7 linked regions of the Homo sapiens genome follow. The protein of the gene in region 6 interacts with the protein of the main gene of each other region in a biochemical or structural test. Each region holds a gene or a part of one and is shown on either strand. Other genes may lie near its edges.

What was found.
Region 1: the proteins of LRP1 (region 6) and MBL2 form a complex in vitro, tested with the Homo sapiens proteins (one study listed by IntAct).
Region 2: the proteins of LRP1 (region 6) and DAB2 form a complex in vitro, tested with the Homo sapiens proteins (one study listed by BioGRID).
Region 3: the proteins of LRP1 (region 6) and NOS1AP form a complex in vitro, tested with the Homo sapiens proteins (one study listed by BioGRID).
Region 4: the proteins of LRP1 (region 6) and F8 form a complex in vitro, tested with the Homo sapiens proteins (one study listed by BioGRID).
Region 5: the proteins of LRP1 (region 6) and F9 form a complex in vitro, tested with the Homo sapiens proteins (one study listed by BioGRID).
Region 7: the proteins of LRP1 (region 6) and PTPN11 form a complex in vitro, tested with the Homo sapiens proteins (one study listed by BioGRID).

What each region holds. Positions count from the first base shown.
Region 1 is NC_000010.11:52,767,333-52,769,784, reverse strand, and holds part of MBL2 (mannose-binding protein C precursor), read left to right. Parts: intron 1-469; coding exon 470-538; intron 539-1,274; coding exon 1,275-1,648; 3' UTR 1,649-2,452. UniProt on the Homo sapiens protein: Calcium-dependent lectin involved in innate immune defense. Binds mannose, fucose and N-acetylglucosamine on different microorganisms and activates the lectin complement pathway.
Region 2 is NC_000005.10:39,379,981-39,383,480, forward strand, and holds part of DAB2 (disabled homolog 2), read right to left. Parts: intron 3,292-3,500; coding exon 2,638-3,291; intron 1,637-2,637; coding exon 1,474-1,636; intron 1-1,473. UniProt on the Homo sapiens protein: Adapter protein that functions as a clathrin-associated sorting protein (CLASP) required for clathrin-mediated endocytosis of selected cargo proteins.
Region 3 is NC_000001.11:162,076,191-162,079,690, forward strand, and holds part of NOS1AP (carboxyl-terminal PDZ ligand of neuronal nitric oxide synthase protein), read left to right. Parts: intron 1-3,500. UniProt on the Homo sapiens protein: Adapter protein involved in neuronal nitric-oxide (NO) synthesis regulation via its association with nNOS/NOS1. The complex formed with NOS1 and synapsins is necessary for specific NO and synapsin functions at a presynaptic level.
Region 4 is NC_000023.11:154,932,224-154,935,723, reverse strand, and holds part of F8 (coagulation factor VIII isoform a preproprotein), read left to right. Parts: intron 1-3,500. UniProt on the Homo sapiens protein: Factor VIII, along with calcium and phospholipid, acts as a cofactor for F9/factor IXa when it converts F10/factor X to the activated form, factor Xa.
Region 5 is NC_000023.11:139,547,739-139,551,238, forward strand, and holds part of F9 (coagulation factor IX isoform 1 preproprotein), read left to right. Parts: intron 1-624; coding exon 625-753; intron 754-3,323; coding exon 3,324-3,500. UniProt on the Homo sapiens protein: Factor IX is a vitamin K-dependent plasma protein that participates in the intrinsic pathway of blood coagulation by converting factor X to its active form in the presence of Ca(2+) ions, phospholipids, and factor VIIIa.
Region 6 is NC_000012.12:57,134,983-57,138,482, reverse strand, and holds part of LRP1 (prolow-density lipoprotein receptor-related protein 1 preproprotein), read right to left. Parts: intron 25-3,500; coding exon 1-24. UniProt on the Homo sapiens protein: Endocytic receptor involved in endocytosis and in phagocytosis of apoptotic cells. Required for early embryonic development. Involved in cellular lipid homeostasis.
Region 7 is NC_000012.12:112,425,447-112,428,946, forward strand, and holds part of PTPN11 (tyrosine-protein phosphatase non-receptor type 11), read left to right. Parts: intron 1-3,500. UniProt on the Homo sapiens protein: Acts downstream of various receptor and cytoplasmic protein tyrosine kinases to participate in the signal transduction from the cell surface to the nucleus. Positively regulates MAPK signal transduction pathway. Dephosphorylates GAB1, ARHGAP35 and EGFR.

The sequences.
Region 1 (2,452 bases), on a different chromosome or scaffold from region 6:
CAGAACAAACCTGGAAAAAACAAAAACAAAACAAAAGACATCAAAAGCAAAACCTCTCCAAAGACAAAAACTCTGCAATCTTTTTCGTCACTCTTCACCAGGTCATAATAGAGTAACGCCTCAAGAGATTTCTTTTTAGTTTTGATAGAACAATTTATTTGAAAAAAAAATCTGTGAAGAACCTGGCATATGGATTGCTAGGTAATCAGGGAGTATATGTGTGCATGTGATATGTATGCGTACTTTGGGATACAGTAAACAGACAAAGAGGGACATTTGGGGTTGGATGGAAATAGCGATTTTTCATTCTTTGGGCTTTTCAGTATTTTTTATTTTCCTTCAAAGTGTAAACATCAATGTAAAATAAGCTTTTTTTTTCAGTTTGAAAAAGATACTCCACTCCCTTGTATATGCACAGTTCTGAGGCTCCTTCTCAACAATGCTTCTTTACTTTGTTCTAATTTTCTAGATGGTGATAGTAGCCTGGCTGCCTCAGAAAGAAAAGCTCTGCAAACAGAAATGGCACGTATCAAAAAGTGTAAGCTTTTTCTCTTACTCTCCAGGCAGCTTGAAGTTTGGGAAAAATAGAATGCAACAAATATTTGTTGAATGCATATAATTTTCTGTACCCTGCTAGGCATTTCTCATATTCTTACCTCATGAAATTCTCACAACATTTTGGTAGAAATGGAGGCAAAGGGAAGTTAAATTACTTGTTCAAATGCACAGAGCTAATAAATGGCAGGGGTGGTTTATAGATGGAAGTCAGTCTGACTCGAGAGACCCTAATCCTTTACCGTCTGATATTGCTCACTGAAAATGGGACTTATATCCCTTTGTTGCACTGGTATTGAGACCTGGCCGTGGGGTCTAACCTGCCTGGGGCAAATATTTTCAGACATTTTTTGTTTGGTCTCAAGTTAACAATTTAGAATTCAGAAGTCCAAATTATATGTCTTTTAGAATTCTGATCTGAAAGCACAGAGAGGCCTTTGTACCAGTCTGTCTGTTCACATTTGGGTTGCCATATTTAACAAATAAAAAGACAAAGCACCAGTTAAATTGGATTTCAGCTGAAAAACATTTTTAGTATAAGTGTGTCTGAAAAATTATATGGGAGATATACTAAAATATTCATTGTTTGTCTGAAATTCAAATTTAACTGGACATACTATATTTTATCCGGCAACTGTACTCTAGAAGACTTTTTCTTGAGAAATACCTTGAGTTGGGCTTAAGGATGAGTCAGTTTCACCCACTTTTTCACATTTTAGGGCTCACCTTCTCTCTGGGCAAACAAGTTGGGAACAAGTTCTTCCTGACCAATGGTGAAATAATGACCTTTGAAAAAGTGAAGGCCTTGTGTGTCAAGTTCCAGGCCTCTGTGGCCACCCCCAGGAATGCTGCAGAGAATGGAGCCATTCAGAATCTCATCAAGGAGGAAGCCTTCCTGGGCATCACTGATGAGAAGACAGAAGGGCAGTTTGTGGATCTGACAGGAAATAGACTGACCTACACAAACTGGAACGAGGGTGAACCCAACAATGCTGGTTCTGATGAAGATTGTGTATTGCTACTGAAAAATGGCCAGTGGAATGACGTCCCCTGCTCCACCTCCCATCTGGCCGTCTGTGAGTTCCCTATCTGAAGGGTCATATCACTCAGGCCCTCCTTGTCTTTTTACTGCAACCCACAGGCCCACAGTATGCTTGAAAAGATAAATTATATCAATTTCCTCATATCCAGTATTGTTCCTTTTGTGGGCAATCACTAAAAATGATCACTAACAGCACCAACAAAGCAATAATAGTAGTAGTAGTAGTTAGCAGCAGCAGTAGTAGTCATGCTAATTATATAATATTTTTAATATATACTATGAGGCCCTATCTTTTGCATCCTACATTAATTATCTAGTTTAATTAATCTGTAATGCTTTCGATAGTGTTAACTTGCTGCAGTATGAAAATAAGACGGATTTATTTTTCCATTTACAACAAACACCTGTGCTCTGTTGAGCCTTCCTTTCTGTTTGGGTAGAGGGCTCCCCTAATGACATCACCACAGTTTAATACCACAGCTTTTTACCAAGTTTCAGGTATTAAGAAAATCTATTTTGTAACTTTCTCTATGAACTCTGTTTTCTTTCTAATGAGATATTAAACCATGTAAAGAACATAAATAACAAATCTCAAGCAAACAGCTTCACAAATTCTCACACACATACATACCTATATACTCACTTTCTAGATTAAGATATGGGACATTTTTGACTCCCTAGAAGCCCCGTTATAACTCCTCCTAGTACTAACTCCTAGGAAAATACTATTCTGACCTCCATGACTGCACAGTAATTTCGTCTGTTTATAAACATTGTATAGTTGGAATCATATTGTGTGTAATGTTGTATGTCTTGTTTACTCAGAATTAAGTCTGTGAGATTCATTCATGTCAT
Region 2 (3,500 bases), on a different chromosome or scaffold from region 6:
TTCAGGCTGACTTGTTAAATATTGGCTGCAAAAATTCTTAAGGGCATTGATATCAGATAAAAAGCTCTGTGATGTGATCTCGCTGCAGACATTGCATTGCAAGCACTCTGGTCTTCTGTGAGGGAAGGGTACCAACCAGCTCCACTTGGGGGTGCAAGGAAAAGAGCAACGCAGAAAGGGGGAAGCCCCCAAGAGACATGAAGTCTTTAGAGAGAGCCTCTTGATGGGGTAAATGCGAGCAGAGACCTGGGACAAGCTGGCTTTTCATACCCTCACGGATTTCTGCCACTCAGCAGTTGAGTAACAGTCCTCCTCTGGCCACCCTATTCTAGATATGATTAAACAGATTTCTTGTAAAAGAACCAAACTATTTTCCTTTGTAGGAAAACAACAGAGACAGAGAGGAAAACAAAACAAGGATCCTGATGACTGACTGCAGGAGGCAGAGAAAGCCAGGATCCCTGGTCAGATTTTACCGAAGGAGAGGAGAGTCCTTCCTCGTCTACAGTCCTCCACCTCCCAAGCCAGAGTCCATTTGGAGTTTGTAGAGGTGCCAAGAGAAGAAAAATAGAGTCCATAGCAGGACAGCAAAAACTATTGTCAGGGTTTCTGAAAACTGTACCATGGAGTCTGAAAAGAACTATAGGCTATGGACTAAGAATAGCAAGGCCAGCCCTCAGTCAAGTGGACTTTCCCACTGTCCTACCACAGAGTGATCAGCGGCTCACACAAGCTAATGACACATTTAGGAATTAAGAGCGTCAATGCATACTAGCTGTCTGATAAAATTCCATCTCTTCCCTTATTTCTCTCTTTTTTCAACTTTGGCTTTCTAGGACTTATGTTCTAGCTTCAGTAAAACACTCAAGCTAGCCAAAATATTGGCAAGGAGCTCCTATGGCAGAAGTGCTCAGAGACTGATCAGGATGTGTGCCTGATCTACCCTTACCATACACCTAGGAACACAGCTGGGCCCAGAACCTAGGACTTTCACTCTATGACTTATTCTTGCTTCAGACTTAACTTACATCCTTCTTGGGCATATATTCCTTCTAAGAGGGCTATGTGTTGAAAGGACATAGGCCTTCGATCTATTATGGCAAAAGACATGGAAGACATGCATGTTGACAGACAAGCCTCTCTTATGTCAACCCTGTTTTGCTACTGAAGCTGGTCTGAGTTTAGAATCCCTTACAATTGTCTTTCAGGAAACCATGACCAGTTGGTTCAAGTAAGTACAATACTGAAAATGAATTTCTTGTCTCATGCTGCCTCGAGGAGCCAAATGTGAGTTACAAGTCAAGAATATCAAATGGATGTGGGGTTGTATAGTAGAAGTGGGAGAAGGGCTCCCTGGGATGCTCAAATCTTATGCTGTAAAACCCTCTGGGAGTATGAAATCTCTTCCGATGCATCATCATTTTATGAGCAAAAGCAAAAGAGTCATACTTAATTTTATCTCTAGGCACCTACCTAGACCCACCAGGGGCCCCACTGGGGCAGGAGCACTTGTTTTGAAGAGATCCAGAGGGTTGGGCTGCAGGGCTGTAGGTTGTCCTGTGGGTGACGCCTGGCCTGAAGGTTCTGAGACGGGAGGAGCAAAGATGTCTGATGCAAGCAAGTCATTGGCTGAAGACTGACAGGACAGGGAGGGAGGGAGAAGCCTTAGTTACTCACTAACAGTGAAATACAGCCTCATTTTGTCTCCTACCCTATACCCCAATTTGAGAGCCACAAAAAGGAAAACTTTTTTCTTGACAGATGAACAACAACAACTACTACTACAGAAAAAGAGTCCTCCAAAAAAAGACACAGATTCCTACAACGGACGGACTACTGAGTCTTAGTGTCTGACACTACCTAGGACTTGCAAAGTGAAATCTACTATATTCCTTTACACACTCACATTGGTCTGGTCTCATCGCTAAATGCTTGAAGTTGGGGGAGCAAGTGTGTAAAAGGGGCAACTACCAATAAGCATCCTAAATATTTTTGTTCATTCCATTGGATTTTAAGTCAGTCTACATAGAGATCATAGGGTCTTAATCCAGGCAAGCCTGTATATTCTTAGGAGAGGTAAAAAAAGACACCTATGGGAACTGCATTTTAAATTGCTCTTAAATAAAGCTGAGATCATAGTGGTAATAGTAAATACATAAGCTTAGAAAAAGCTTATGTATTTACTCAGTATTTAAAAGAGGAGATAAGCTCGAGAATTTTATACCACCACCATGGACACTGATGCAACATGATGGGTGTGCAGGGCATGTGTTAGTGTCAGGGAAGTACAAAGGGAATCACAAGAACTCTCACCCTCCCAACCCAGAACACGATGATCAAACTTACCAGAGGTATAGAAGCATAGCAGCATTAAAAATGGAAAAACTTGTGTTTAGTTTAATCATAAGTGACAAGACATGCACACGGAAAGCAGGGTGTGAAAAACACTGCTGAGAAGCTTAAAAACGGTGGCAGTTAGAGGAAAGTACTCCTGGAGAACCAAAGTGCCTTATCCCACCTTCTATTTCACAGCAACACAGGAAACTACGAGAGCAGCAGGAAAGAGAGCTTGCATCACACCACCCTTTGGTACCGAACATGCACTCTGCTAATGGATATGTGGAGAAGACAATTCACCTTAGCAGTCCTTCTGCCTCTTCCTGGTTTGGTACTTTGTGGAGGTGGGATAATGGCTATGGAGTCATGTGGTGAGGACTGGACAGAGCTTTCCAAGTCCTGCTTTACGCCATTCTGTATGGACAGTCCTTTGGGAGGGCTTCCCACAAAAGGGTTCGGGGAGGATTTGACAGAGAAGCCGTTCTGTTCTCTTTCAGATACCCCATTTTGAGTTCTCACTGCTGGCTGGGTTTGCGAACTTGAAAAGGGCCATGGGCCTGCCTGAGCTTCCTGTTTGCCAGTCCGGTTAGAGATCTGGTCAAATTGCTGACCAAAGTAGTCAACATCACCATTCAGGGGCCCATTACTCAGCGGAGTAGACGAGCTACTCGAATTCTCTTTCTTCTGATCTGGAGATTTGAGAGAATCAAACGAAGAAGGTGTCGATTGGTCTGGCTGTGTGAAAGGATCGTCACGGAAAGGATCAGGATTAGGGGTGGGAAAGAAGTTGAGATTGGCAGAAAAGGCATTTTCAGGCAAGAAGGATGCCTGAGGCGTTGGTCGAGGAAGAGAACAGGAGGTGATGCCGTTTGTTAAGAATGGATTTTCTCTTAAAGAATTCTGATTGGTGTCGATTTCAGAGTTTAGATCCACTAACAGGATATCTTTGCTTTCCTATCACATTTGGAAAGAAAAAAAAAGAAAGTGTTAGTCCATGTTGTGACTTCAAATGAGAAAATTACATAAGATGACTAGGATTATCAGAATTTCCATTTGAATTTGGTCTTGATAAATCGGTTGATCATTACCTCCTTCCATCAACCCCCGTAGTCCATTACTCCCTAGCTATAGACTAGGTCCTTTCTATTCCTCCCCAATATCAT
Region 3 (3,500 bases), on a different chromosome or scaffold from region 6:
CTCCTCAGTGACCTTTTTGCTGCCCTTGTCCTGCTGTCTACCCTCCCCAGCAGCCTGGGACCATGCCCATGGCCGTTCCTTCCTGCCTTTTTGCCCTACCCTGCAAACTTGATCTTTGCTACTTTTCTTCTTCCTTTCTGTTTTTGGAAAAGACCATTTATATATTTTCTTTGGAGAATGTCTATTCTGATCCTTTGCTCATTTAAAAGTTGGATTGGCTTTTTACTATTGAGTTCCCTCCTTTCTAATAGTTTTATTGAGATGTAGTTCACATACCATACAATTCACTAATTTAAAATGTATAATTTAGTGATTTTTAAGATATTACAGATCTGTACTACCAGCACCACAGTCAATTTTAGAACATTTTCATCACATTAAAAAGAAACACTAGGCTGGGCGCGGTGGCTCACTGCTGTAATCCCAGCATTTTGGGAGGCCAAGGCGGGTGGATCACTTGAGGTCAGGAGTTCAAGACTAGCCTGGCCATCATGGTGAAACCCCATCTCTACTAAAAATACAAAATTAGCTGGGCATGATGGCACACACCTGTAATCCTTACCCCCTGCGTCTTCCCAGACCTGAACAGCCACTAATCTACTTGCTGTCTCTAGATTTGCCTATTCGGGACATTTCATATTTATGGAATTATACAATATGTGGTCTTTTGTGTCTGACTTCTTTGCCTTAGTGTTGTGTTTCAGGGTTCATCTATAATTTATCAGTACTTAATTCCTTTATATGGCTGGATAATATATCATTGTATGGATATACCACATTTGGTTTGTTCATTCATCAGCTGAGGCACATTTAGGTTGTTTCCATTTTTGCCTCTTAAAAATAATGCTATAAACATTCATGTACAAGTTTTTGTGCAGGCATGTTTTTATTTTTATTTTTTAAAATTTATCTTGGGTAAAAGTAAAATGGCTGGGTCCCATGGTAACCATGTGTGACCATTTGTGGGACTTCCAATGTGGCTGCATCGTTTTACCTTTCCACCAGCAGTGTGTTCATATCTTCACCAATGCTTGTTGTCTGACTTTTTGATTCTAGCCATCCTCCTGGGTGTGAAGTGGGATTTCATCATAGTTTTGATTTGCATTTCCCTTTTGAACAACATAGAATGTCTCCTCATTCCCTAGGAAGCAGACTCAGAGAAAAAAAAAAAGACCATCTTTTCATGTGTTTTTTGGCCATTTATATATTTTCTTTGGAGAAATGTCTATTCTGATCCTTTGCCCATTTAAAAGTTGGATTGGCTTTTTTACTATTGAGTTGTAAGAGTTCTTTATATATTCTGGATTCAAATCCCTTATATAGATTTGCAATATTTTTACCCATTCTGTGGTCTTTTCACTTTCTTGGTATTGTCCTTTGAAACACAAAGTTTTAAATTTTGGTGAAGTCCAATTTTTTTTCTTTTTCCCTCATTTTGAGATCCATCTGCCTTCCATGTCCTGTTAGTCTGCCCTTGTCCTCTTAATTATGCCCTTCACTCCCCACCCCCACCCTGGCACAGTTACATCTCCTGGGCACTGGCTTACTCCTCCCTGCCTAAGAGTATGCTATGGCCTTCCCTGTATGAAATACCTCTTCTTTCCACCTCTTTCTTTAATTAACATGTTGTCTTTCTCCTCCTTTCACAGCTAAGCCTTGTGAGAGAGTACTCCACCCTCTGCAGTATCTCAGTCTTCATTCAGTCCCTGGCCACTTCCTTCCAACTTCTGTCCTGGCTGCTGTACTGAAATTGCTCTGCTGCCCCCTTCTCTATCCTCATCCTTTTTGACTTTTCTTCCTGAGCTGCCTGTCCTAGTCCTCTGTGGAATGCCTCATTGGGCTCTCTGTGCCTGCTTGCAGTCAGCCAGCCCCTTGCCCCTGCCCATACCTCCTTCTTTTGTGGCTGTTCTACCTCCTCCCTTTGCCCTCTACTGTGAGTGCTCCATTCCCTCTCCTTTGGATTCTATCTACTCCCACTCTTCTGTTATGCAGGCTGCTGGCTCTCTACTTCAGTCCAGACTCCACATCTTTATGCGCAGCTTCCTGCTGGTCATCTGTACCTGAATGTGTTGCTGTCCCTATCACTCAACAAGCTGGAAATCAAATTTCTCTTCTGACTTCATTGTCTTTTAACGACCCCACCATCCTCTTGGGCACATGGGCCTGACACTTTAAAGTACCCCTTGTATTCTTTGATTTAACAGCCAACTCAAATTTGCTGTTTACTGGGTACCTATGATGTCCAGGCTCTACTCTCCTGTACCCCACATCAAGTTAGGTGCCAAATCCTCTTGAATGTTCCCAGTGACATCCATCCACCCACCCTGGCTGGTCCATCACCCGTTCAGATGCTCCACCCCCTCCCCTGTTATCAGGGCCATCAATAACCTTCTGAAGGCCTCCAGTGTCCCACTTGTTCTCTGATCCCCCTCATCCCTTAAACTTTTGCCCTATCAATTTTCTTGAAATGGTTATCCTCCCACTCAAAAACATGAAAAGTTTCTGTACCTACTATATTAGAACCAAAATTCTTAGTATGATATTCAAGGCTGTTTTTGAACAATTCCCTTTAATCACCCTGGGCTTCAACCCAACTGTAGTACCCACCATTCCCTTAACCCTCACTGCAGTTTCCCACCCCGTTCACAAGTCACTCTGTGAAGTGGATGTTACCAGTCCCACCTGCTTTGTATTAGAGCTGCTTGTCCTGTCCAATTTTCATCCCTACATTGTCATTGTCAGGGTCCATGTCACTCTGCCCCCGTGTCTTCCACAGCCCTGAGTACAGTGCCTTGCACATAGAAAATGTATTTTGAATGAAAGAGATGATCCCTATAAGATGGCCAGGACCCTCCTGGGTCACCCAATGGTGAGAGGTGCCTTAATTGACTCTCCACTCCTCCCCACCATTTCTCTTGCTTTAGTCTAGTAACTTCCGGTTCCCAGTGGCTTGAGGGACCCCCCAGCATGGCCTCTTTCTGATACCCCCAATCTCACACAGTGCTGATTCCTTCCAATGAAAATACCAAGTAAGCATTTTTTTTTCCTGAATTAAATAAAATTCCACTGATGGATGTCCAGTGGAATTAGAATCTGAATATAGAACATATGGCCAATTTCAGGAGTAGGTAATTGTCATTTCTCAATTGTCATTTATGTAAGAAACATTTTCAACTTGTTTTCTCATTAATGAATTGATGTCTTTTTTTTTTCCTAATTCATGGTTTATTTTCTGTAATTTGCTACTTTGCAATTTTTATGACATGAATTTGGTTGGTAGCATAGCATGGCATGAATTCAGGAGCCAAACTGTGTTTGGGTTCAAATCCTGGCTCTATCCCTCACTTGCTACTTGACTTTGTGTGAGTTATGTAACATCTTTCCTTTAGCGTTCTCATTTGTAAAAAGAGGATACAAATATCTCATACTTCGTAGGGTTAATGGGAGGATTGAATCAGTAGTACCTGTAAATGGCCTAGCACCGTGCATGACACAGAGTT
Region 4 (3,500 bases), on a different chromosome or scaffold from region 6:
TGGGTTGTTGAGTTAATTGATGAACTCATAGATGACATACAATTTATCTTTTTATTCTTGTGTCACTTGTGCTTTTGATGTCACATCTAGGAAGGCTTTGTCTAGCCCAAGGCCACATTTACTTCCATATTTTCTTCTAAGAGTTTGATAGTTGTAGCTGTTACATATATGTCTATGATCTAGTTTGAATAAATTTTTGTGTATGGTGTGAAGAAGAGGTCTAACCTCTTTTTTATTTTTTGCATGTAAACATCCAGTTGTCCCGGCACCATTTGTTGAAAATATGATTCTTTTCCCATTAAGTCATCTTGACACCCTTGTTGAAAATCAATTGACCATAAATGTGAGAGTTTATTTCTGAACTCTCCATTCTGTTCCATTGACCCATACGTCTTCTATAAATTCTTATAGCTAATTCTACATTAGACTTTGGTTTTTCAGATGTGGTCATCTCATTAGATTATGGTGATATGTTTGGTTACAAGTTTTATCTTCTCCTTGGCAACATTTTTTTTATTACTGCTCTTCTTTTATTCGTTTTTGTTGTTCCTTTCTCTTTTTGTGAGACAGGGTCTCACTCTGTTGCCCAGGGTGGAGTAAGTGGTGTGATCATGGCTCACTGCAGCCTCAACCTCCTGGGCTCAAGCAATCCTCCCACCTCAGCCTCCCAAGTAGTGGGACTACAGGCATGCACCATCATGCCAGGCTAACTTTTTTATTTTTTGTAGAGACAGGGTCTTGCTTTGTTGCCCAGGCTGGTCTTGAACTCCAAGCTCAAGCAATCCTCCAACCTCAGCTTCCCAAAGTGCTGGGATTACCAGTATGAGCCACTGCACCTGGCCTTGTTGTTCCTTTCTTCCTTTTATCTTGTAGTATCTTGATCCTTTTTGCTTATTATTTATCATTGAGGTGAGTTTGTTCTAAATAAACTTTTCGCAGAAAGTTTATGTAGATATATTAATATCAATGAGGCATTAGGAGTGAGTTTTAGATTAGCAGGAATTCTCTTATGAAAGGTATTGATTGTATGTGTGAGTTTTCAGCCTTTACTTCTCTCCAGCCCATCAAGATCAAAGCTGCAGAGTTGTTTACATTTCAGAATTTCTTTCCTCCCCTCCCCACCTTGCAAAACAGACTTACAGTGCAAAAATGACTTGTCAATGTGATTCTTTCTTCTGGTCCCATCTTTCCTACCTTTTGAGACTTGTGTTGAAAGGAGTCCAGTAAAACCACCGATGCTAGCTTGTATACCCTGATCCCATTGTTATAATGAATGACTGACTGTTTTTCATATCAAAGTATAATACTTGCACCTTGATAGAAGAAAGAAACAAGGCCAGGCACAGTGGTTCATGCCTGTAATCCCAGCACTTTGGGAGGCTGAAGTAGGAGGAATAATTAGACTTTGATATTAAAAATGGGGAAGATATGGCGGTATAAGATATGAGGAAGTATGTCTTCTTGGACTTTTCTGAAATCTGCCAGCCATGAGCATCCACTCTTTTTATCTTTTGATACCTGTTTTATATTAACTATACTTCTATTTTGTGGTTTCATGGCTTCAGATATCTTCCAGCTTAATTGTACTCTGTCTTTAATTATTTGCAGCAATTTCTGAAAGGAGCAAGAAGAAAGGCCAGCCCTTTCTTCACTACCTTAAAAACTGGTCATCTTTTGAAACCCCATGAAAGGCACAGTGGGTGACCATCTACATCAGGAGTGGGCAAACTATGGCCCTTGGGTAGTCTGGTCTCTGTCCGTTTTTGTAAGGTTTTATTGGAACCCATACACACACAAACTGATCATCTCTTGTTATGTGTTAAGTTTTCTTATAATTATTCTTTTCTATTTCATCCAGCTGAATTACCATTTCACCTTGTGTATGCCCTTTCCAGTCTTAAATTATAGAAGCTATGTCTTTGTGGTTTTAAATTATGGAAGCTGTGCCTTCTTGTGTTTTAGTATGGCAAGATATTTGTTCTTACTTTTCCTCTAGAATCTGCAGTGGATTACTTTCAGAAGTAGGTATTGCCTCTAAGTTTCCTGACTTCTGTTTCCTTCTCCCTGTTCTGTAGTATATTTATAGATTGCATGTTTTCTCGTCCTTAAACAAGGTACAAATATGTTCTGATCAAGGTTTGCTAGCCGAGAGGATAAGTGGCTTGCTCTTAGCCTAACTCTCTGTCTACTTAATGGATGTCGAATTCCCTTCTCAACTCAACAGCTAGTAACTAGTTCCAAGATCGGATAATAGCTTACAGAATTAATTAGTTCAGTGAAAGCCCTGGTTTGATCACAGAGGCAGGAGACTGATCTATATATTTGTAGTGCTGACTAGACCCCAACTTGGCCAGATAGCTTATACCTATGTCAGAAGTTGGAGGAGGAGATTGACAGCTGAGGTGTCTCCAAGGGAATTACAATTATTTTCATTTTCTTTGTGTCTGTAATTATGTCTCTTTTCTTACTTCAAATTTTGTATATGTGAAATTTCTTAATTTTTATTTGGTTATTTATTTTATTGACTTTTTCATCAAACAACCAACTCTAAGTTCTTGGATTGAAATTTATGAATTAATTATAATGTTTTAAATTTACCATTAGTCACACATACAATACAAAAAGATATTTTCATTACAAAATTTTAACCCAAGCCATTAAAACTAAACTCCAGCTTGGTCACCATTCCTAATACCAGGCCCCTCTCAGAGGGGAGGGTAAATAAAAGTCCATTTTGGTAACTAGTTTGACGAGAATCTCTAATTGTTTCCCTGTTTTTCTTATAATGTCTGCCTTTGAATTATCCTCTTTTTTTCAAGAGTTCCATCATATAATGTATTCCTTTTTGCTTACAGATTGACCTCCTAGAGGCATGCATCCCCCTGCTCCAGTCTGAGCTGGTTCTCTCTAGGCCTGAGGCTCAGTTATCAACTTGGGACTTTTATTTACCCTCCCTCAGGATAGGTACCTGGTTCTTGGATACCAGGTCTTACTCTTGTTTGAGATACTCCTTTATTTTGGTGGCAAACATTCCATAATCACTTCCTGATAATGGTGACATTTGAGGTAGATTTTCTGAGTCTTTATATGTTAGAATATGTTTTTATTCTCCTTTGCCACTTGATTGATAATTTGGCTGCACATAGAATGTAAGCATTCACAGGGCTTTTGGGAGCAGCTTCCCTTGAGAAGAAGGTGGATGCAGTTAAGATCTTCCCTGAAAAGACTGTGTGAAATGACAAGGCTATTGAGGTACCCAACGGGTAGCTTGGTAAAGGTGTATCTTGTCTCTTATGTTTATGCATCTACTTTACCACCATGTAATTAGCCTATTATAACTTGTTGCATTCCTTCACTCAGCTAATCTTGTTCATGGTAGAAATTAATATTGCTAGTACCATGGTAGAATTTTATATTAGCTGGATCCTAGACCTAAATGCTCCTTCCTTGTGCTTACATATTCTGCAAGTGGGTGACAGTGGATGCTAGGTATTGTGTTA
Region 5 (3,500 bases), on a different chromosome or scaffold from region 6:
CTACACAGCAATGTAAATGAACTACTGCTGTACAAAACAACATGGTTTAATCTCACAGACAAAATGTTAAATGAAAGACACAGACGAGTACATATTGCGAACTTCTGTTTATAATTCAAGAACTGGCAAGAACTGTTTACTGTGTTAGAAGTCCAGGTAATGGTAACCTATAAAAAGGAAAAAGGGTGGAATGATTGGGAGGGGGCATCTTCTGGGGTATTGATAATGTGCTATGTATTGGTCAGTTTAGTGTTTAAACAGGCTCATTTACTTTGTGAAAACTTACACTAAAATTGTGTGTATTTTTTGAATATATGTTATACATTAATAAATAGGGTTTTTAAACCTGTAGTTCATAATTTAGTGAAAGTAGAATATCCAAACATTTAGTTTTAAACCAATCAATTATAGTGCTACCATCATTTTTATGCATTATTGAGAAGTTTATTTTACCTTTCTTTCCACTCTTATTTCAAGGCTCCAAAATTTCTCTCCCCAACGTATATTGGGGGCAACATGAATGCCCCCAATGTATATTTGACCCATACATGAGTCAGTAGTTCCATGTACTTTTTAGAAATGCATGTTAAATGATGCTGTTACTGTCTATTTTGCTTCTTTTAGATGTAACATGTAACATTAAGAATGGCAGATGCGAGCAGTTTTGTAAAAATAGTGCTGATAACAAGGTGGTTTGCTCCTGTACTGAGGGATATCGACTTGCAGAAAACCAGAAGTCCTGTGAACCAGCAGGTCATAATCTGAATAAGATTTTTTAAAGAAAATCTGTATCTGAAACTTCAGCATTTTAACAAACCTACATAATTTTAATTCCTACTTGAATCTGCTTCCTTTTGAAATCATAGAAAATATCAGTAGCTTGAATTAGACCAATTAATTTTCTAGATTGCATCATATTTTAAATATAAACTATGTAATCATCTACAACCTGAATTCTTTCTGTGTCCAATTTGTCCAATTTTTTTCTCTAACATTTATATCACAAAGCAATTAATTTGTGTGATTTCTGCATATGTATTTGTAATTCATCAAGTCAAATCAATGTAGTAATACTATATCATAAAATATACACAAATAATTGAGTGATAGGCTTCTAGTATAAGGACGGTAAGTTTGAAGCATGATTCTATCTGGGCTGGCTAGTTTACTCTGAGAAAGTTATTTTTTATTGTTGGGTCTTAAGCTGAGTTTACACACTTGGTGTCAGAATGATTCCGGCAATGAACTGTTTTATGTTCTGCTAGGCTGATCAGCACAATCTATATGGCTGTGAACAAAACAATGTTTCCCAGTCATGCCAACCATGCCACCATTTTAACAGCTGATTAGTGTATTCAGAACATCTCCACTCCATGTTCGTATGGCTGTTATCTAAAGATGAAAGCAGTAGACACTTTTATTTTTTGAAAAATTTAGGCTCTGCAGGGTCAATTATATTTGATAAATGAGGGGCTTTTTTGAAGCAAACTAGATATAATTTCTTTTGCATTTCTAAAGCCTGATATCTTATTAATTGGTACATTAAATTGTGCACCATTTCTCTGTAACTGTTTCAGTACCTGTCTCAGCACTATACCAGGCAGAAGAAATTAAAGAAAGAACCAGTGCCGAGATCAGCTTGGTCAGGGAGACCCTAATCCTGCGGCACTAGAGGAATTAAAGACACACACACAGAAATATAGAGTATGGAGTGGGAAATCAGGGGTCTCACAGCCTTCAGAGCTGAGAGCCCCGAACAGAGATTTACCCACATATTTATTGACAGCAAGCCAGTCATAAGATTTACTGAAAGTATTCCTTATGGGAAATAAAGGGATGAGTCTGGCTAGTTATCTGCAGCAGGAACATGTCCTTAAGGCACAAATCACTTATGCAATTGTCTGTGGTTTAAGAACACCTTTAAGCAGTTTTCCGCCCTGGGTGGGCCAGGTGTTCCTTGCCCTCATTCTGGTAAACCCACAACCTTCCAGTGTGGATATCAAGGCCATCACGAGCATATCACAGTGCTGCAGAGATTTTGTTTATGGCCAGTTTTGGGGCCAGTTTATGGCCAGATTTGGAGGCCTGTTCCCAACAAACCAGAAGCTAGGAATATATATCCTGCAAATAAAATGAAGAATCTCTAAGGCTTCAGGGCCTGCCCACTTGTTCTTCTGCCTGGTTCTTCACATACACTGTCTCAAAGCTAGTCTACCTTGAGAGGAGCATGAATATGTGTGTGGGTGTGTGTCTGTGTATTTTAACCTTAAAAACCTAACTTCCAGTATAGACAGATGGCATACTAGCTAAACCCTTACAAGTTCTTCTATGCTATAAAAGAGAAACAGAATTGAGAACCACCTCCAACTATTAAGTGTTATATTTGAATATAGCCTTAGCTTTAGCAGAATAAGTAGGCCAAACTTAAAATAAGCTTTTCTGCCTTTTCAATGATAAAGGTCCCTTTTCTGTAGCCATTGTTGATTGTGTACACTTATACATAAGTATTTTGAACTAATTTCCTGTTTTCTCAACCACTTGCTGTCTTCATGATACTTTGTCGCAGCTGGTTGCTATAGAAATGTCTGTTACAAGGAATGTGGCTTGAAGGAAAGTGATAAATGAAAATGAAATGTGAAGTGACTTTGTTTGACTACAAATTCCCATTCTGGTAGTCCCCAGTGTATCAATACATTATTTTTCTTTAGAAAATAAACCAACCCAAGGAAAAATGGTGGGCAGGTCCTGGTGAATATGGCTGTGATAATTATATTAGCAATCTCTTTGGCTAATATTTGAAGCCCAAATAATTGAATCACAATGATCTCTCCCCAGAAAATATATAAAATGCACCTTGGAATCTAGAAGGCCTTTTAGTCTGCAAAAGAAACCTTCTTAATCATAAGCAGCAGAAGTCCCATTTACCAAATTGGAAAGTTAAAGTTACAAAGCATCAATCATAAGACTTCCATTCAGGGATGGCAATTGGGAGTAAGACTTTTTAGTAAAGAAACTAAACACAAAGTCATTAGACTCTGTAAAAGTCTTACCAAATTTGATTCTGGAACACCTATTCTATTTCCGTAAAGATGATGAATTCCGGAGCCAAATGTTCTTTTCATGAAGGATTTGAAAACTGTCCATGAAAATAACGCAATCAACCTTTTAGCTTGAGACTCTATTCACTGATTAGATTTTTTTAAATACTGATGGGCCTGCTTCTCAGAAGTGACAAGGATGGGCCTCAATCTCAATTTTTGTAATACATGTTCCATTTGCCAATGAGAAATATCAGGTTACTAATTTTTCTTCTATTTTTCTAGTGCCATTTCCATGTGGAAGAGTTTCTGTTTCACAAACTTCTAAGCTCACCCGTGCTGAGACTGTTTTTCCTGATGTGGACTATGTAAATTCTACTGAAGCTGAAACCATTTTGGATAACATCACTCAAAGCACCCAATCATTTAATGACTTCACTCGGGTTGTTGGTGGAGAAGATG
Region 6 (3,500 bases):
GCTTGGGGCTGCAAGTCTTAGGGGCTAGGGCAAGGAAAGAAAAGGGGATATAAATGAAGGATGGAGGCCAACTCTGTGAACCCAAAGTCCCCTAGTACTGCTCTTCCTTCCCTAGCATCAGTCTCCATCTGGCCCAGACCCTCAGCCATGGTCTATGTGCCTGGGGGTGTCAGGGGGTGGCTTTGGGTAGTTCCTAGACACTGTGTATCTGCGGTGGGGGTGGGGAGGATCCAGAAGCACATTTTACTGCACCCCTCCAAGTCCTCTAGGCTGCCTGTTCCTGGGAGTCAGGGTCAAAGCCTTTGCTATTCTTGGTTACTCTCATCAGACACCAGCACCCCCTGGCTTTGATGACAGAGTGATGGTGAAGGGGGGTGCATTTAGGCCTTGACATGTTTTCTCTTTGTCTTCCTCTAACTCCTACTACTAGAGGCCCCGAGCTGGTCTTATCTAACCTCTCTGCTTCCCTGCCTTCTGGGACACTCCTGGTCCCCTGACCCATCACCCCATCCTTCCCAACCCCTAATCACTAGGCCCCCAGATGGGAGCAGTGGGGAGGGATGCCCTTGGCACACACAGTAGTAGTTGGAGATGGTATTAGCAGAGGCACAGGAGGGCAAGGCTGGGCAGGAATGGGCAGGGTAGAGAGCCTTGCTTCCATTTCCATTCCCTATTTTTTTTTTTTTTGAGACAAGGTCTCACTCTGTCCCCCAGGCTGGAGTGCAGTGGCACAATCTCAGCTCACCGCAACCTCCACCTCCTGGGCCCAGGCGATTCTCCTGCCTCGGCCTCCCCAGTGGCTGGAACTACAGACATGCATCACCATGTCCAGCTAGTTTTTGTATTTTTAGTAGAGACGGGGTTTCACCATGTTGGCCATGCTGGTCTCAAACTCCTGACCTCAGGTGATCCACCTGCCTTGTCCTCTCCATTCTCTAAAGACACAGCCTCCCTTGGTTAGACCTCAGGGAGACTTTCAGTAGACATCCTTAGAGTTAAGAAGCACCTAAAGATTTTCAAGATATCAGAATTGGGGAGCAGAGGCAGGGGGATGGCTGAAATGAACTCTAGGAACTGGTTTCAGTCCAGTCCAACTAGTTAGCTACTATATTCAGGACCTCTTGGCCCTACCCTCCCACCCCAATCAGGCTTCTTCCACTCCTACCCCATTCTCTTCCCTCATCCCCCAAGGAGGAATTAAGAATGGTGACAACTAACTCTGTTGTTTTTTTTTTTTTTTTGAGACAGAGTTTTGCTCTTGTTGCCCAGGCTGGAGTGCAATGGCACGATCTTGGCTCACTGCAACCCCTGCCTCCCGGGTTCAAGTGATTCTTCTGCCTCAGCCTCCAGAGTAGCTGGGATTACAGGCATGCGCCACCACGCATGGCTAATTTTGTATTTTTAGTAGAGACGGGGTTTCTCCATGTTGGTCAGGCTGGTCTCGAACTCCCAACCTCATCTGATACATCCATCTCAGCCTCCCAAAGTGCTGGGATTACAGGCGTGAGCCACCGCACCCGGCTGACAACTAACTCTTATTGTGGGCTCAGTATGTGCCAGGAACTGTGGTAAAGCAGTTTTTTCCATGTATCATCATATTTAATTCCCTCCACAGTATGACAAATAGGGACAACTAATACCACCATTTCACAGATGAAGAAATTGAGCCAGGTGACTTGGCCAGGGTCAAATAGCTGGCAAGTGACAAAACCAGCTAAGCTGACTCCAAGCTCTGAACCAGTGAAATCCACACCAGTCCTCCGAATTCCCACTCCTCCCAACCTCTATCACCACATCCTCCACAGGAGGAACAGTCACCCACCCCTTCTCCCCCACCCAAGGCTGAGCTCCCAGTCTCCTGGCCTTTCGTGGCTTTTCCTCAGACTGTGCCATCACATTTCTATTCTGCTGGCACACACTGAAGGCCAGCTCTATGCCAGGCACTGCACTAGGCATCAGGGTGCCAAGGAGGGTGAGATGACCCTCTGCCCTGCAGGAGCCAGAGTCGCCTGAGAAGACAGCTGTACCCAACTAATGCAAATGCAGGGCAGAGACAGAAGTATAAGGAAAATGGCGGGGGGGGGGGGCTCTTAGGAGGGAGGGAGTCTGATGGGAGCCTCACTGAGATGTCTTCCCTCCTAACCCCCACCGCTGGCAGGGGAGACGGCACTCAGGCCCCTGGCCAAAATGACCGAGTTCAGGAAACACATCAAGGATGGCCTAGCCAGGCTCCCCCTTCAGCCTCCCTCCCCTGGCCCCCACCCTGAGCCTGGAATAAAGGCCCCTTGAGGAGGTGGATAATGCTGAGTTCATTGCCCCACTGGGCCAGCTGTGAGGTCTTCCCGGGAAACACAGCCCGCCAGCCTAGTTAGCATGCCGGAGAACCGTCCGCTTCCCCTGACCAGCCGTGGCCGGCTGAGGGGGAAGAGGGGGGCTGGAATGGGACTCAGAGGCAGATGAGATGTTTGGAGCCCAGAAACAGACCCCCGTGCCACCCACCTGGGACTTGGTCCATGCCCTGCTCCTCCCAGGGGCAGAGCGCACAGCCACGGCCTGAGGTCACCGGGTGGTCACCTAACCTCCCCTCCATTCCACATCCCAGCCATGGTGCCCCCTCCTTTAGCCCTCACTGAGTCCCCCCCGCTGTCCCCCACCCCCATTTTTGGCCTGAACTCCACAGAGGAAACAGCAGCTGGCAAACTCCAAAAGCTGGAATGAGAGAGATTCACAAACCAGATGTGCTCTTGCAGGGAGGGGATGGGGGATGGGACAAGTGAAAGGAAGAGGAGGGCCCAGGCCCCTATCCCACAGCAGCACCGGGGGAGGGGGCCACATCTCCCGAGGGCCTGGCCAGCACAAGGATTGCAGAGAGATACGTGAAAGAACTTCCTGTCAGGGCTGGTGTTGAAGGGCCCAGGAATCTGGAGCGAGAAGGCTGAGGCCTGTCTTTGATTTCCTTCAGGGGGAGAGGGAAGAAAGAAACAAATAAACTACTTTGGGACAGTCTACACAGCCAAGGGAAGCCTCACTCAGAGCTGGGAGAGAGCTGAGTTGGGAGCGGGGTAGGACCCTTATAATCTGCTTAGAGGGAAAGCCAACCCCACTCCCCTCAGCAGAGCCTTCTGTGTCTGAATCCAGCACCCAGAAAACCCACCTTTGTGGCCTGCAGTTTAGATGAGAGAACAACATTGCCCTAAGGTCAAAAGCAACTAAGGCCTTCCCCGCCTCCTGGCCCGCATGAGAGAACCCGGAGGTCTCCCTGACCGATGGGAGCTAACCTTTTTCACCTTGCTAACCACCAGCCACTGATTGGAAATACGGTGACTATTAACTCACTTAGATACTATAACCCTGTGAGGTGGGTGCCCTTGCGGCCCCCCTCTCACACATGGGGGAGCTGAGGCACAGGGTGACTGGTAACTGAGCAGGTGGTTTCCTCATAGGTCATGGGATGCAGCCGGGTTAAGAAAGGAAACCAGGCCGGGCATGGTGGCTCATGC
Region 7 (3,500 bases), about 55 Mb from region 6:
AACAAACTATAAACTTATTCCCCAAGAACAAATATAATAATTTTTCTGGAGTAGCAGGTAAGAAAGATATAAATTTATATGTATACAAGAAACTGAAATTAGACTTTATACATTTAAAGGTTACAAGTGCAGTTTTATTACATGAATGTATTATCCAGCATTGAAGTCTGGGCTTTTAGTGTAACCAGCACCTGAATAACATACATTGTACCCATTAAGTAATTTCTCATCCCTCAAACCCCTCCCACCCTGAAATTAGACTTTGGATCCCTAGTTTAAATTCCACCCCTCTCTTTTTTTGAGACAAGGTCTCACTCTGTCACCCAGGCTGGAGGGCAATGTTGCAATGATAGCTTACTGTAGCCTCAACCTCCTGGGCTCAAGGGATACACCCTCCTCAGCCTCCTGAGTAGCTGGAACTGCAGGCGTGCACCACCACATTCAGCTAATTTTTTGATTTTTTTATAGAGATGAGGTCGGAACTCCTGGGCTCAAGCGATTCTCCCCAAGTGCTGGGGTTACACACATGGGCCACTGCCCCCAGCCTAAACCTCCTTTCTCAGTATAGCAGCCTTGAGATGAAGTTCCTGAAATTACTGGCCAGCTTGACTGTTTCCCCACATCACTGGAGGAGGGGGATGCATAGATAAAACAAAATATTCAGCATCATTGTATTTTCTTTTTGTTTCATCAGCATCTTTTTTTAAAACTCACTTGACATAAGTCCCTAGCCTCAAAGAGTAAAGCCTTTGCAGAATCTGCATTCAGATTTCGGGTGTGATTTCCTGACAGATAGTTCAGGTTTGTAAACTCTTTTTTTTTTCTTTGAGACAGAGTTTCACTCTTGTAGCGCAGGCTGGAGTGCAGTGGCACCATCTTGCCTCACTGCAACTTCTGCCCCCTTGATTCACGCGATTCTCCTGCCTCAGCCTCCTGAGTAGCTGGGATTACAGGCATGCGCCACCACACCTGGGTAATTTTTGTATTTTTAGTAGAGATGGGGTTTCACCATGTTGGCCAGGCTGGTTTTGAACTCCTGACTTCAGGTGATCTACCTGCCTCAGCCTCCCAAAGTGATGGGATTACAGGTGTGAGCCACCGCAGCCGGCCAAAACTTTGTTTTTTTTCCTCTTTTTGTTGCTGAGAAATGTAAACTCTTACAGACACAAATTATGTCTCCCATTTTTTAAAACCCACTCAACACAGGGGTCATGTGTAATAGGCCCTGGAGCTTATTTTAGACATTGATTTGAGGCTCTTTTCCCCAAGTGCTGGTTTGTGTGTGTGTGTATGTGTGTGTAAGTCTTTCTATGAGATGAGTGGTACCTACCTGGGCTGTGTGATCTTTTTTATTTTATTTATTTTATTTTTGTAGATACGAGGTCTCACTATGTTGCTCAGGCTGGTCTTGAACTCTGGGGCTCAACCTATCCTCCCTCCTTGGCCTCCTAGAGTGCTGAGATTACAGGTGTGAGCCACTGCACCTGGCCAGCGATCCTTAATAAATATAGATAATGGCCGGGCGTGGTGGCTCACACCTATAATACCAGTACTTTGAGGGGCCGAGGCTGGCAGGTCACCTGAGCTGAGGAGTTTGAGACCAGCCTGGGTAACGTGGGTGAAACCCTGTCTCTACAGAAAATAGAAAAATTAGCCAGGTGTGGTGGTGCATGCCTGTAGTCACAGCTACTTGGGAGGTTGAGACAGGAGAATTGCTTGAACCTGGAAGGTGGAGGTTGCAGTGAGCCGAGATCGTGTCTTTGAACTCCAGCCTGGGTGACAGAGTGAGACCTTGTCTCAAAAAAAAATATAGATATAGGCTGGGCGTGGTGGCTCACACCTGTAATCCCAGCACTTTGGGAGGCCGAGGCGGGTGGATCAGGAGGTCAGGAGATCGAGACCATCCTAGCTAACATGGTGAAACCCTGTCTCTACTAAAAATACAAACAATTAGCCAGGCCTGGTGGTGGGTGCCTGTAGTCCCAGCTACTCGGGAGGCTGAGGCAGGAGAATGGCGTGAACCCGGGAGGTGGAGGTTGCAGTGAGCCGAGACTGTGCCACTGCCCTCCAGCCTGGGCGACAGAGCGAGACTCTGTCTCAAAAAAAAAAAATCTATATATCTATATATCTATATCTATATAGATATAGATATAGATAATGCCAGATGATGGCTGGTTAGAAGGGATTGTCAGGGGCTGGCAGGTTTTGCAGGTGTTAGAATGAGCAAGATGAGGAGAAGGATGCTTACTTCCCTCTCCTTGTAACTCTCTACCCCCTCCCCTCAGTGTTTTTTTATTTTTATTTTTATTTATTTATTTTTTTTGAGACAAGGTCTTGCTCTGTCACCCACACTGGATTGCAGTGATGCAATCATAGCTCATTGAAGCCCAAACTCCTGGGCTCAAGTGATCCTCTTGCCTCAGCCTCCCAAGTAACTGGGACCACAGGTGCGTACAACTATGCCCAGTTAAGTTTTTCATTTTTTATACAGACGGGGTCTTGCTATGCTGTCCAGGCTGGACTTGCACTTCTGGCTTCAAGTGATTCTCTTGCCTCAGTTTCCCAAAGTGCTGGCATTATGGGCATAAGCCACTGTGCCTAGCCCATCAGTGTCTTTTTATCCTTTACTCCTATCAAAATTCATTCACTCAGCAGCCATTGATCAAGTGCCTACTATATACATGTTGAGGACTGGAAATTTATTTGTCTCTTCTCATCTTATCTGGACCCTCTGTGTTAATTGTAATTAACTGTAATCATTCTGTATTAATTGTAATAAACTTGTTGATAAACTCAAATGAGGCCATACCGTTTTGCCACTTCCCCTCCTTCCAGGTTATATGGATGTACTTACATTGCAGGTTTCATTTGTTGGTTCAGTTTTTAAACTAAGCCCTATTGTGTCAAATTATGCTAGGTGTGAGATGGGGAGTTCAAGCTGTGTGTTGTCTTTTTTTTTTTTTTTTTTTTTGCCTCACTTACTAATATACAAGCGCTTATAACCTTTGAGGCTGGCCCTATACATTAAGATTTTTATTAATTCCACTGTTCTTTATCTTCTCTTACTAAGTTCTCAGGGTCGAATGAACTCTAACTGCTCCTTGCTAGTGATAAGCAAGTTGCAAATTACAGAATTGTCAGTGATTGAATACACGTATTAAACCTGTAACTGGGAAGCATTTTTGGTAATTATGAATACTTTTGGAAAAAAAAAAGCTATGGAAGGAAAGTTTAAAATCTACGAAAGCTCAAGTAGATGGTCATGGAATAGCTATTTCAATTTCTAACTATATATTACTTATTTATTTATTTATTTTTGAGACGGAGTTTAGCTCTTGTTGCCCAGGCTGGAGTGTAATGGCGTGATCTCAGCTCACTGCAACCTCCACCTCCCGGGTTCAAGCTATTCTCCTGCCTCAGCCTCCCGAGTAGCTGGGATTATAGACATGTGCCACCACGCCAGGCTAATTTTGTATTTTTAGTAGAGACGGGGTTTCTCC